Linked DNA regions of Homo sapiens: region 1 is linked to region 2. Evidence: fine-mapped expression QTL. A gene starts in region 2. The other region holds a variant in brackets. All regions are shown on one strand. Distances are between the middles of the regions. Region 1 holds the start of PTMA (prothymosin alpha). Region 2 holds the start of PDE6D (phosphodiesterase 6D).

Region 1 (5,305 bases), 76 kb before region 2:
CCCAGCTAATTTTTTGTATTTTTAGTAGAGATGGGGTTTTACTATGTTGGCCAGGCTGGTCTTGAACTCCTGATCTCGTGATCCGCCCGCCTCAGCCTCCCAAAGTGCTGGGATTACAGGCGTGAGCCACAGCGCCTGGCCTATTTTTTATTTTTTAAGACAGAGTCTTGCTGTGTTGCCCAGGCTGGAGTACAGTGACACCATCATGGCTCACTGCAGCCTCAACCTCCTGGACTCAAACAATCCACTCACCTCAGCCTTCTGAGTAGCTGGGACTACAGGCACATGCCACCATGCCCGGCTAATTTTTAAAAAATTTTTAGAGTCGATGTTTCGTCATGTTGCCGAGACTGGTCTCCAACTCCGGAGCTCAAGCAATCCTCCTGCTTAGGCCTCCCAAAGTGCTGGGGATAGAGGTGTGAGCCACCACACCTGGCCGTCCTCTCTGTTTCTTAGAGGAGAGAAAGTAACTTGCCCAATTCACAAAGCTAGTGTATGTCAGGGCTGCCATTTGAACCCAGGCAGCTTAAAAATTCATTCTGCCTGATCTTTTGGGGATCAAGCAGATTTGTGAGATAACCAATTAGAAATATGTTGTAAATGGCTTTAGGAGCAGGCTTAGTTGCAAACTGAAGTGCCCACAGGGCCAGGCAGATGAAATCAATGTGTTACTCAGGCTGGGCGGGGAGAGGCCTGTGGGCCATGTGGACAGTGTGTAGACCACCCAGAGGTGTCCCTGTGAAAATTCCCCCAAAACAAGCCAGGCACAGTAGCAAGCATCTGTTGTCCCAGCTACTCAGGAGGCTGAGGTGCGAGGATAGCTTGAGCTCAGGAGTTGGAGTTCAGCTTGGGCAACATAGCAAGACCCCATCTCAAAACAAAACAAAACATGCCTGGAGGACATATTGGGTCCCTTGCTCACAGCAGCTCTAGCCGAAGCCCACTGTATCTCAGGCTGGGGTCAGGAAAGCAGGCTTACCAGGGCACACCAGCTTGTCTTGGGGGGTTTGAAGGGCAAGGTCACCAAAGTGCCTGACTTCCTCTGTAATAACAAAGGGCATGAGATGTATCAATGAGTGGAAGTGACAGAGGACAGGAAGAATAGTCTGTTCAGAAACAGCAAAAGAGGGCCGGTGTGGTGGCTCATGCCTGTAATCCCAGCACTTTGGGAGGCTGAGGCGGGCGGATCACTTGAGGTCAGGAGTTTGAGACCACCCTGGCCAACATGGTGAAACCCCGTCTCTACTAAAAATACAAAAATTAGCTGGGCATGGTAGCAGGTACCTGTAATCCTGGCTTCTCAGGAGGCTGAGGGAGGCAGGAGAATCACTTGAACCCACGAGGCGGAGGTTGCAGTGAGCCAAGATCATGCCAATGCACCCCAGCCTGGGCAACAGAGTGAAACTTCGTCTCAAAAAAAAAAAAGCCTGGCACGGTGGCTCACGCCTGTCATCCCAGCACTTTGGGAGGCCGAGGTGGGCGGATCATGAGGTCAGGAGTTTGAGACCAGCCTGGACAATATGGTGAAACCCCGTCTGTACTAAAAATACAAAAATAGTAAACCCCATCTGTACTAAAAATACAAAAATTGGCCAGGCATGGTGGTGCACGCCTGTAGTCCCAGCTACTCGGGAGGCTGAGGCAGAAGAATCCCTTGAACCCGGGAGGCGGAGGTTGTGGTGAGCTGAGATCACGCCACTGCACTCCAGCCTGGGCTGAACAGAGTGAGACTCTGTCTCAAAAAAAAAAAAAAAAAAAAGAAACAGCAAAAGAGGTAGGGAGCTACCTGTTGCTGAAGGAACACGGTTCTTCATAGCCTAAATAACTCCCCCACTATGAGCTGTCAGATACCACACTCCTGGGATGAGAGGGAGGTCCATGGGGGCAACTTCTGCCCCAGGGCTCATCTAAAAATGCAGATTCCTCTGTTTTAGGACTTAGCCTCGGCTCCATCATTGATCCAGTGGGTAACTCCAAGTCCCTTGCTATAATCTCTAGGTTTGCTTTTTTGATTTGTTAAAAGGAGGGTTATATCAGAAGTTGAACCTGTAAATGTGTTGATTTTCAGTTCGTTTTCACCTACATAGACATCAGTTTCATATGGTTCAACTCCATAACTGTCCTACCCACCTTGTACATGAAAATGAAGCATGAGTCAAAGGCTCACTGCCATGTACACAGCGGGCATTCAGTGAGTGTTTGGGAAATTTAAGTGGTGGTTCTGGAACCAGATGGGCATGAGCCTTCCTCACCCACTTCTAGCAAAGGCACCTGCATGGGAATAACGTCAGAAAACAGTTCTTTTTTTGTTTTTTTTTTTGAGATGGAGTCTCACTCTGTTGCCCAGGCTGGAGTGCAATGGCGTGATCTCAGCTCCTGCAACCTCTGCCTCCCGGATTCAAGCGATTCTCCTGTCTCAGCCTCCCGAGTAGCTGGGATTACAGGCGCACGCCACCAGGCCCGGCTAATTTTTGTATTTTTAGTAGAGACGGGGGTTTCACTATGTTGGTCAGGCTGGTCTCGAACTCCTGACCTCGTGATCCACTCACCTCGGCATCCACCCACCTCAGCCTCCCAAAGTGCTGGAATTACAAGCGTGAGCCACCGCGCCCGGCCAGGCAAAGCAGTTCTTAGAGGGAAATTCACATTCATCAGTTCCTTCTGGGTGTTTGACCTTCCCGCTCCCACAACAGCCTGAATCCAGAACTGTCAAGTCTGGTTTTCAGCTATGGACACAGTCCACTGCCCGAAGGCCACCATCCAGACGACGGGGAAGCCTTGATGGCCTTTCCGGAGCCACTGCCCGAAGGCCACCACCCAGACGAGGGGGAAGCCTCGATGCTTAGAGATGGTACAAGCCAGGCTCTCATTGCATCTGGGTTTCGTGGAAAAAACAATCCTCTCGAGGGTAACTGGAACTTAATGGATGCGCCGCAGGTGGAAGGCGCTCTGTCCCCCTGTTTACGATGACGCATAATCCCTCCAACTCTCTGAGAATGTGACACAAAGGAGGGGGTCACGGTGGCTGAGGTCAAGGAGCCCTTCCTCTGTGAAGGGCGGCCCCAGGTCTGCGCGGCGGTGAAGACAGACTGGCAGTGGGAGGGAGGGAACCCGACAAAGAGTTGAGACGCGT[A/G]GTCCTCGGGAACAGCACTGTGGAAGTCCCCCGGATTGAGGCGCGCCCGTCCAGTGGAGAATGCCACCTCCAGCCACTGGGGCGCCTGGGGGCAGGGCGGAGACACAGCGGGCGTCCCTTCGCCGCTGCATAGGAGGGCGACCGCTGGGCAGCGGGTGTTGGCGCGGTATCCCCGCCCTGCCCAGCATCTGCCCCACGTTTCTTCAGGCTAAACTACCGGGATCCCGGGCTTCTTCCTAAAGTAAAACTCGCTCCGGAAAGGCCAACAGTCCAGCGGCCAGACGGGCACCTGGGAACGCGGGCCTAACGCGTACTGGAGACGGAGTGGCGCCCGGCACTGCGCGCCTCCTCCCCGCCGGGAGACTGCGTGCTAAGCTCAGCAAAGCCCCGCTGTGGAGACGGAGCCATGTCGCCCATTACCTAATGAAACTGAGAAGGGAGACTCAGTCTCTCTTCTAGCCCCGAGCGCAAGCTCTGCTGGACTTGGCATCGTCCGCCCTCCACGATCCCACACTCCGGGTTTTCCCCATTCCCAGCTCGGCTGCAACCGAGAGACAGACGGAAGAAACTGCCAATGGAAGGACGCAAAGCGTCAACTTTGTGTTCGCCCGCCACTCTCGGCCAATGTGCGCTCGTGTCTCCGGAGTCCCGCCTTCCGTGTCGGGCGCCCCCTTTTGGCAGCACAGGGACGAACCCTACGTCTCGCCATCTTGTGTGTGGCACAGGTAAATTTCTGGACTATCTTTCCACCTATTCTGGTCCTTTTTCCCACACAACCGATTTCTTAGTTCGACAGCTAAGTGCGGTGGCGATAAGGCCAGCGTAGCCTGTTGTTCTCGGATCGCCCACGTGAGCTAGATCGCTACGTCACGCCACGCTTGCCGAGCCCGGCGCCATCTTGAGTGTGGCGTTTTGATGCTCCCCTTTCTCGGGGCTCCGCATGGTTCTCTAAATGGTCCCCCAAATTTCAGGTAGTCCCCAAAGATTAGCCCAACTGGCTCCAGAGACGATGATTTTTCCCGAGGAACTCTGTAATGTTCATGTGCCCATCGCAGTCCAGCAGTGGGGTGGGAGAAGGGTAGACTCGATGGCCCGGCAGGCCCCTGGAGGAGGCTGCCCTGAGGCTGTCGCGACGGCAGTGACCGCTCGGGACAGACCCTAACTAGAAACCTAGAATGAGGGGACCGCTATGCCGTGCGGGGCCCGCGGGCTGTCCCACTCGAGGGCTGGAGCCGGCATCGCGCATCGAGTCCGCTTGATACATGAATCCGTGTGTGCTTGGGACGGTGCCCGCTTGTCGACTGACTTGGCCGACGGACGCCGGACCTGATGGTGGGCAATCGAGGTCGCCTGCCCACAGGACTAGGGGTGCCCTGCCCTGGGAGGGCGCGAGGGCATGGCAGAGGGACGGGGCGGCCCAGGTGCCCGGGTCTCGGCCTCGTGACCTCGTTGCTCGTCGTGGGGCTGCCGTCCACTTGCACTGGGACAATCCTTGGTCCAAGGCGCCCAGGCGCGGGGGGCGGGCACCTCCGCGGGCACTGCGCTGGGCACCGCCCGGGGCGAGCGCGGCCCAGCACCCCGCCTTCCCCTCCCCCGCGCTGGCAGCCGTCGTGTGCCCGCCGCCCCCTCTTCCCTCCCCCTCCTTCCGAGCAGCCGCGGGGAGGGCGGGAGAGGGAGGGAAGGGGGTTGGGCGGGCAGCTTTGCCGCGCTTTGGCTTTCTGCGTCAGCAGCCCCAGCAAAACAGCTGCGGGAGCGCGCGTCCGGAACGCGCTCGCGCACCCCTCCCCCGCGCCCTCGGCCCTGCTGAGACCCGGCAAACTCCGGCCTTGAATGACAGTGCGATCGGCGACTGCGCAGCGCGGGACGCGCCGGGGCACTGCCGCTTTAAGCACGCTTGTCCATTGTTCGGAATCGAGCCAATGAGCGAGCGCCCGCTCCCTGCGCTCAGCCAATAGCGGCCGGGCATGGGAAGCCGAGCGCCGCCCACTAATCTATATTAAAGCTTCTGGCGCCGCGTGAGTCCCCCACTGGCTGCTCTGAAAAGCCATCTTTGCATTGTTCCTCATCCGCCTCCTTGCTCGCCGCAGCCGCCTCCGCCGCGCGCCTCCTCCGCCGCCGCGGACTCCGGCAGCTTTATCGCCAGAGTCCCTGAACTCTCGCTTTCTTTTTAAT
Region 2 (5,371 bases):
GGCTACCAGAGGATGAGCACGCCACTGCTCTCATGCTAACTTTTTGATGTGGCTGCTTCCCTTGTGCTTCAGGATTTAATCAGCTCAGGTCAAGCTTTTCCCAAAAGCCTGTTTCTGGATGCACTAACATCACTGAATCGGTTGATTCGCTTTTCCTTCCAGTGGGCTGACACAGATTCTGCTTTCTGAAACTCTTTTCCGTATTTGTCTCTTATCCTCTTTCTCAACAGGTTCAAGAGCTAAGACTGAAGGTGAGAAGCTCAAACTTTTCTGCTTTGTTCAAAAGCCATTAAAAAGGCCTTTCTTCTTTTCAGCAATACGGTATTTCCAATCAGATGAAAACGTTGCTTCTGAAATCTCTCAATTCTCCAGTTTCCGGTTTACTGTCTACAAAGCATGTTAAGTAGCAATATTATTACATTGTTAGATGTTAATAGTATAAATTATTTGAGGGAAAAATAAAATCCATGTCATAGCTTTTCCAGCACTTCAGTCATCCCTATATACCTATTTGATCCATTATGGAGAGAAACACAGAAAGGCACATGGAGCTATAAAAGAGGCTGCTACTAAACCAAAACATGAAAGTACTGAAAGTTTATCACAGATGGTAGTATGCAAAGGTGATACAGCCTTTAGTTTTTTTAAAAAGCATAGATCAATTTCCATTCGAAAAATCTCACTTGTACATCCAAAACTTCCTTTTTGCACTGTGGTCTAAAATGTATTACCAACTTGGTTTCTGATTATAGCAAAGCAATTAAATTTGCAAGCGTGACATGGACATTGTGAAAACGCAACAGAATACCAAGAAAACAGTGCTTTACTAAACCTCCAAGGGAGGAGCCCTGAAGTGGTGACTACCTTTTCACTGAGGGAGCAATTTAAGAACGTTCGTACTATAGATTACAGATAGGATGCATGAAGAGATTAAAGTTGGCAGGAGAATGGAAAATTTGAATATCCAAGTTTGCATTTTTTCATCTGCATCATATGGTGACAGACTAACACACTCCACGAAAACACAAAGCTTCCTTACGGAGAGGATGCAAAAGGGGCACCACAACAGGCCCGAGGCAATGATTTCTCTACCCCACTCTATCCTACCGTGGCCCCAGCGACATCACACCATTGCTGGACAGCTCCACCACAGCTAGGCATAACCGCACCGACAGGAGCGAGCAAAGACACCTCGGCTAGGAGTCCCAGCGCGAGGCACCCCACACCTAAGCCTATGGTCCTCATCTTGCTGGAAAGAAAACTGAGGCGCTGAGGGGGAAGCAGTGACCAATGCCTGAGAAGGCCAAGAGTGTTAAGACGAGGTCGATCTTGGACTTCTCTTTCCCCACCTCCCCCAACTACTCCAGTCCTGGAAGAAGCCACAAGTTTGGAAGAGAAGTTGTGGAAACCAGACGGGGGTGGGGTGCGGTGCGGTGCGGTGGGGGACCTGAGAGAGTTTTAAAAGCACTGGTATTTGTCCCACACAAGGTCGCCCGCTCCAAGTCACTGTTCCCCGCTCCCCGGGTAGGCTTATAGCCAAAGAGGCTTCTAGGCTTCGAGATCAGCCCACCGCGCCCCCTCAGCCCTTCTCCGCGGGCCGCAGCCCCATCCCGGCCTCTGGGTCCCGGCCGGGGATCGGAACCCAGCCGGCTTCTCCGACAGCGTTTCCGACGCCCGGCACCTCTCGCAGCCCCGTCCCCCAGGCTCCCCCGTCTCCACCCGCCACCCCCCGGCGCTCCCGTCAACGTCCCCTTCCTCCCTCAGGACGCCCCTTGGGGCGCCTCTCGCGCCGGGTCCCGCCGGGTGCTCGGCACGCTGTTCCTTTCCTCTCCCCTCCCGCGGCCCTTCTTCTGTGGGGCCCACCTGGCGCGGCCCCCGCCCCCGGCCAGTCTCCTCAGTGAGCGGCCGCCTCCCAAGTCCTCCCGGCCCCGCCCCGCTCCCGGACGGATACAGTTTGAAGCCCCTCAGGATCTCCCTGGCCCGCTCGTCCTTGGCTGACATGATGCGGCGGTCGCCGCCCGCGGCTTTCTCACTCTGGTCGGCGGAGCCTCGCAGACGGTGCCCAGGAGCCGAGGATGGAGCCGCAGCCCGGCTTGGAGACCTCGGGCTAGCAGCCGCAGCGGCCAGACCAGGACCGGCCTCTCTCTCCCCTCAGCTCCCGCTTCTGATCCCTTCTCCTTCCCCCTAGCCTCGCAGTGCCCTCCTGGAACCAATGGAAAGCCAGCCTTGGCGATTGGCATCTCAACCAGCCAGTAGGAGCGCGCAGCGGCTTCGCAGGGGGACTGTTAACGTCAATGGGAAGGGCCCTCCCCGGGAAGTCCCATAGGACACAATATTCATCTGGTGTTGTTGCCTAGAGTTTGTCCCAGCGGAGGGTTGGCTTCGGATCTGCAGAGGCTTTAGGGACCTGCTCCAGCCACTGAGCACACTAGCCGTCTGAGACGGCAGCTGAGTTGCACTGTGCGACGCGACAGAGACTACATTTCCCAGCATTCCAGCGGCGCACTCGGGGGACCACAGATCCCAGCGCACCACAAAGAGGCCCGGGGACTACAAATCCCAGCATCCCCTGCACTCGGTTCCTCTGTAACTTAGACTCCAGTGTGCCGCGCAGTGTGCGCAAATTCACAAACCCGCCCGCTGAGTTGGTCGTTTCGGAATCCCGAGACTTGAAACCCAACGGGAAGACCCTTCTCACCCTCAAAAGAAGATGACAGCCCGCAGAGAGTTAACTTCTGTTTACATGGAACTCAGACATCTGCAAATCATGGTAAGGCTGCAAACAACAAACAAAAACACTGATTAAACCGTGAAAGAGAACAAAATGACTTCTTCAAATCGTGCTTGTTTGTTGGTCTGAGGCGCCTTTTACATGTATTTCAGGGTTTTTTGCTGTATTCCTGGTTTGCACCGGGAGAGCTATGGATTGTATACTCAGAATATCAAAACATAAAGGGACTTTGCTAATCTATCCCCTGTTGTTACGTATGAGGAAATTGAGGCCCAGAGAGGCGAAGGGATTGGCCACAGATCACAGCAAGTTCGGGCAGAGTTAGAATTCAGCCCTAAGTCGGCTGACTTGCAGTCTGGACTCTTTGCACCACACTAAGGAGGTGATATTTTTAGCAGCATGGCAATGTGAATTATTCTCCTTGAACGGTTTTCCTATCCACTGTTGAAACACCCAGAATTAGGTAGCATTTATTTGGTGGATTTCTTGCGAGTGAGGGAGTGTGATATTTATTTATTTTCAGCCTAGGTAGGATTTGGTGTTTTGTTTTTTGCCACTCAAGGTGACATTTAATGTGATTTCAGGAAGTAGGTAAAATTACAGTGTGAGCCACGGTTTCCTTGGAAACCTCCTCTGTCCTTCTCTTGGCCTTCCTTCCTCTGCCTGTCCCCACTTTCACCCATCTGGGAACTCACCCAATTTTTTCTTCCATGTAATTCAACAAATATCTTTTCAGCCTGTTATTTGTCAGGCACTGAGTGGGTAAAAGGTGAAGGACATGGTCACTGCCACCAGGAAGATGAACATATATTTAGGGAAATAAGGAGACTCCACTGAGATTCAAGATGGAGTGTGATAAAATGGCATAAAGAAATGACATCAGAATGCTAAGGAGGCCCTGATGAAAAGGTTCATTGCAGCTGGCAAAACTTTAATGGACAAGGTGGCATTTGAACTTGAATTTTTTTTCCATGTTAAAAAAGTTTTTTTTTTGTTAATGAGGTGTAACATACAGTATGGGAACAATTTTCACATAGGTATACACCCCTGTCGCCACTACCCAAATCAAGATATAGAACATTTCTAGCACACTTAGTGCTCCCTCCCAATCAGTATTACATCCTTACATATTGAGATAATCACTCTTCTGACTGTATCACCATAGATCAGTTTTCTCTGTTCTTGAATTCCAGTTAAATATAATAATACAGTATGTACAGTATGTGTCTGGCTTTTTTACTTTATCAGTATTTTTGTGAAATTCATCCATGTTGTGTGTAGCCTTTTAATTGCTGAATAGTATTCTGTTGTATGTTTATACCACAATTTATCTTTTCCACTGTTGGCGGGCATTTGGGTTGTTATTTTTTGGACTATTATTAGCAAAGCCGTAGTGAGCATTCTTACATGTTTCTTTTTGTAGACACTTGCACACATTTCTAGGAGAGGAATTGCTAGTGTGTAGGGAGGGTATGCACATGATCAGTGATAGTAGACATTGCCAGTTTTTCAAAATGATTGTACCAATTTACGCCTTTGCCAGCAATATGAGAGAGTTCTAGGTGCCTCTTATCCTTGTCAACACAAGAGTTTTGTTGTCAGTCTTCTTAATTGTAGCCGTTCTGGCTGAATGTGGTATCTCATTAAGGTATTTATTTGCATTTTTCCTGATGTTGAGCACCTTTCAATGTGCTTGTTGGCTAGTTGAACGTCCTCTTTCGTGAAGTGCCTGTTCTTTTCCCAACTTTTAAAAATTGGGCTGTCTTCTTATTGATTTGTAGTTCTTTACAGTCTGGATATGGAGTTCTTTGATATATGCTTTGCAGATATCTTTTCCAAGGCATGGCTTGTCTTTTCACTCTCTTACTGGTGTCTTTTGAAACAAATTATATTTTTGAGGGATGGGGTCTCTGCTGTGTTGCCCAGGCTGGAATGCAGTGGCTATTCACAGGCACCAGCATTGCCCACTGCAACCTCGAACTCCTGGGATCAAGTGATCCTCCTGCCTCTGCCTCGCAAGTAGCTATAGTAAGACTATAGGTGTACTCCACTGCATCTGACAAGCAGAAATTCTTAATTTTAACACAGTGCAATAGTTCCGTGCTTTTTATTATGGTTAGTGTTTTTTGCATTGGATTTCAGAAATCTTTGCTTTTAGAGTTGGCAGGTTTTTTACAGGCTGATAGAAGAGCATTCCAAAAAAGAGCAAGCTTGAGCATAGGTGTGGTGTCTGAGAGGGAGGGTGTAAGTTGTGCCGGGCATGGGAGTTTGGACTGAGAAGGGGGAGGGGGTGGGGTGCGACAAAGCTGGAGTTAGGAGGGAGGCACACTTTGAAGGGCTTTCAGTGCAGCCACTGCCTGGGCGTGGTGGCTCACGCCTGTAATCTCAGCACTCTGGGAGCCAAGGTGGGAGGATCACTTGAGATCAGGGAAGACCAGCTTGAGCAACATAGTGAGACCCCATCTTTAAAAAAAAAAAAAGGAATAAATTTGCCGGGTGTGGTGGCACGCACCTCTAGTCCTAGCTACTTGGGAGGTGGAGGTGGTAGGATCCCTTGAGCCCAGAAGTTCAAGGCTGAGGTGAGCTATGATAGTGCCACTGCACTCCAGCCGCGGTGACAGAGTAAGACTCTGTCTCTTA

The links. PIP is the estimated chance that this variant, and not a neighbour inherited with it, causes the effect.
Region 1: its variant is fine-mapped to the expression of PDE6D in whole blood (TOPMed, PIP 0.94).

Annotation. Positions count from the first base shown.
Region 1 is chr2:231,703,371-231,708,675 of GRCh38, forward strand. PTMA (prothymosin alpha) reads left to right here and starts at 5,155. Exons shown (of 5, transcript NM_002823.5): 1 at 5,155-5,305. RefSeq lists enhancers at 3,287-3,925, 4,565-5,202, 5,203-5,305, 5,204-5,263 and a silencer at 4,564-4,963. The variant A/G (reference allele first, on the strand shown) is at 3,134.
Region 2 is chr2:231,779,114-231,784,484 of GRCh38, forward strand. PDE6D (phosphodiesterase 6D) reads right to left here and starts at 2,169. Exons shown (of 5, transcript NM_002601.4): 1 at 1,952-2,169. The coding sequence starts at 2,001. It also overlaps a transcript of COPS7B not described here. RefSeq lists enhancers at 1,336-1,415, 1,966-2,195 and silencers at 1,359-1,582, 1,706-1,755.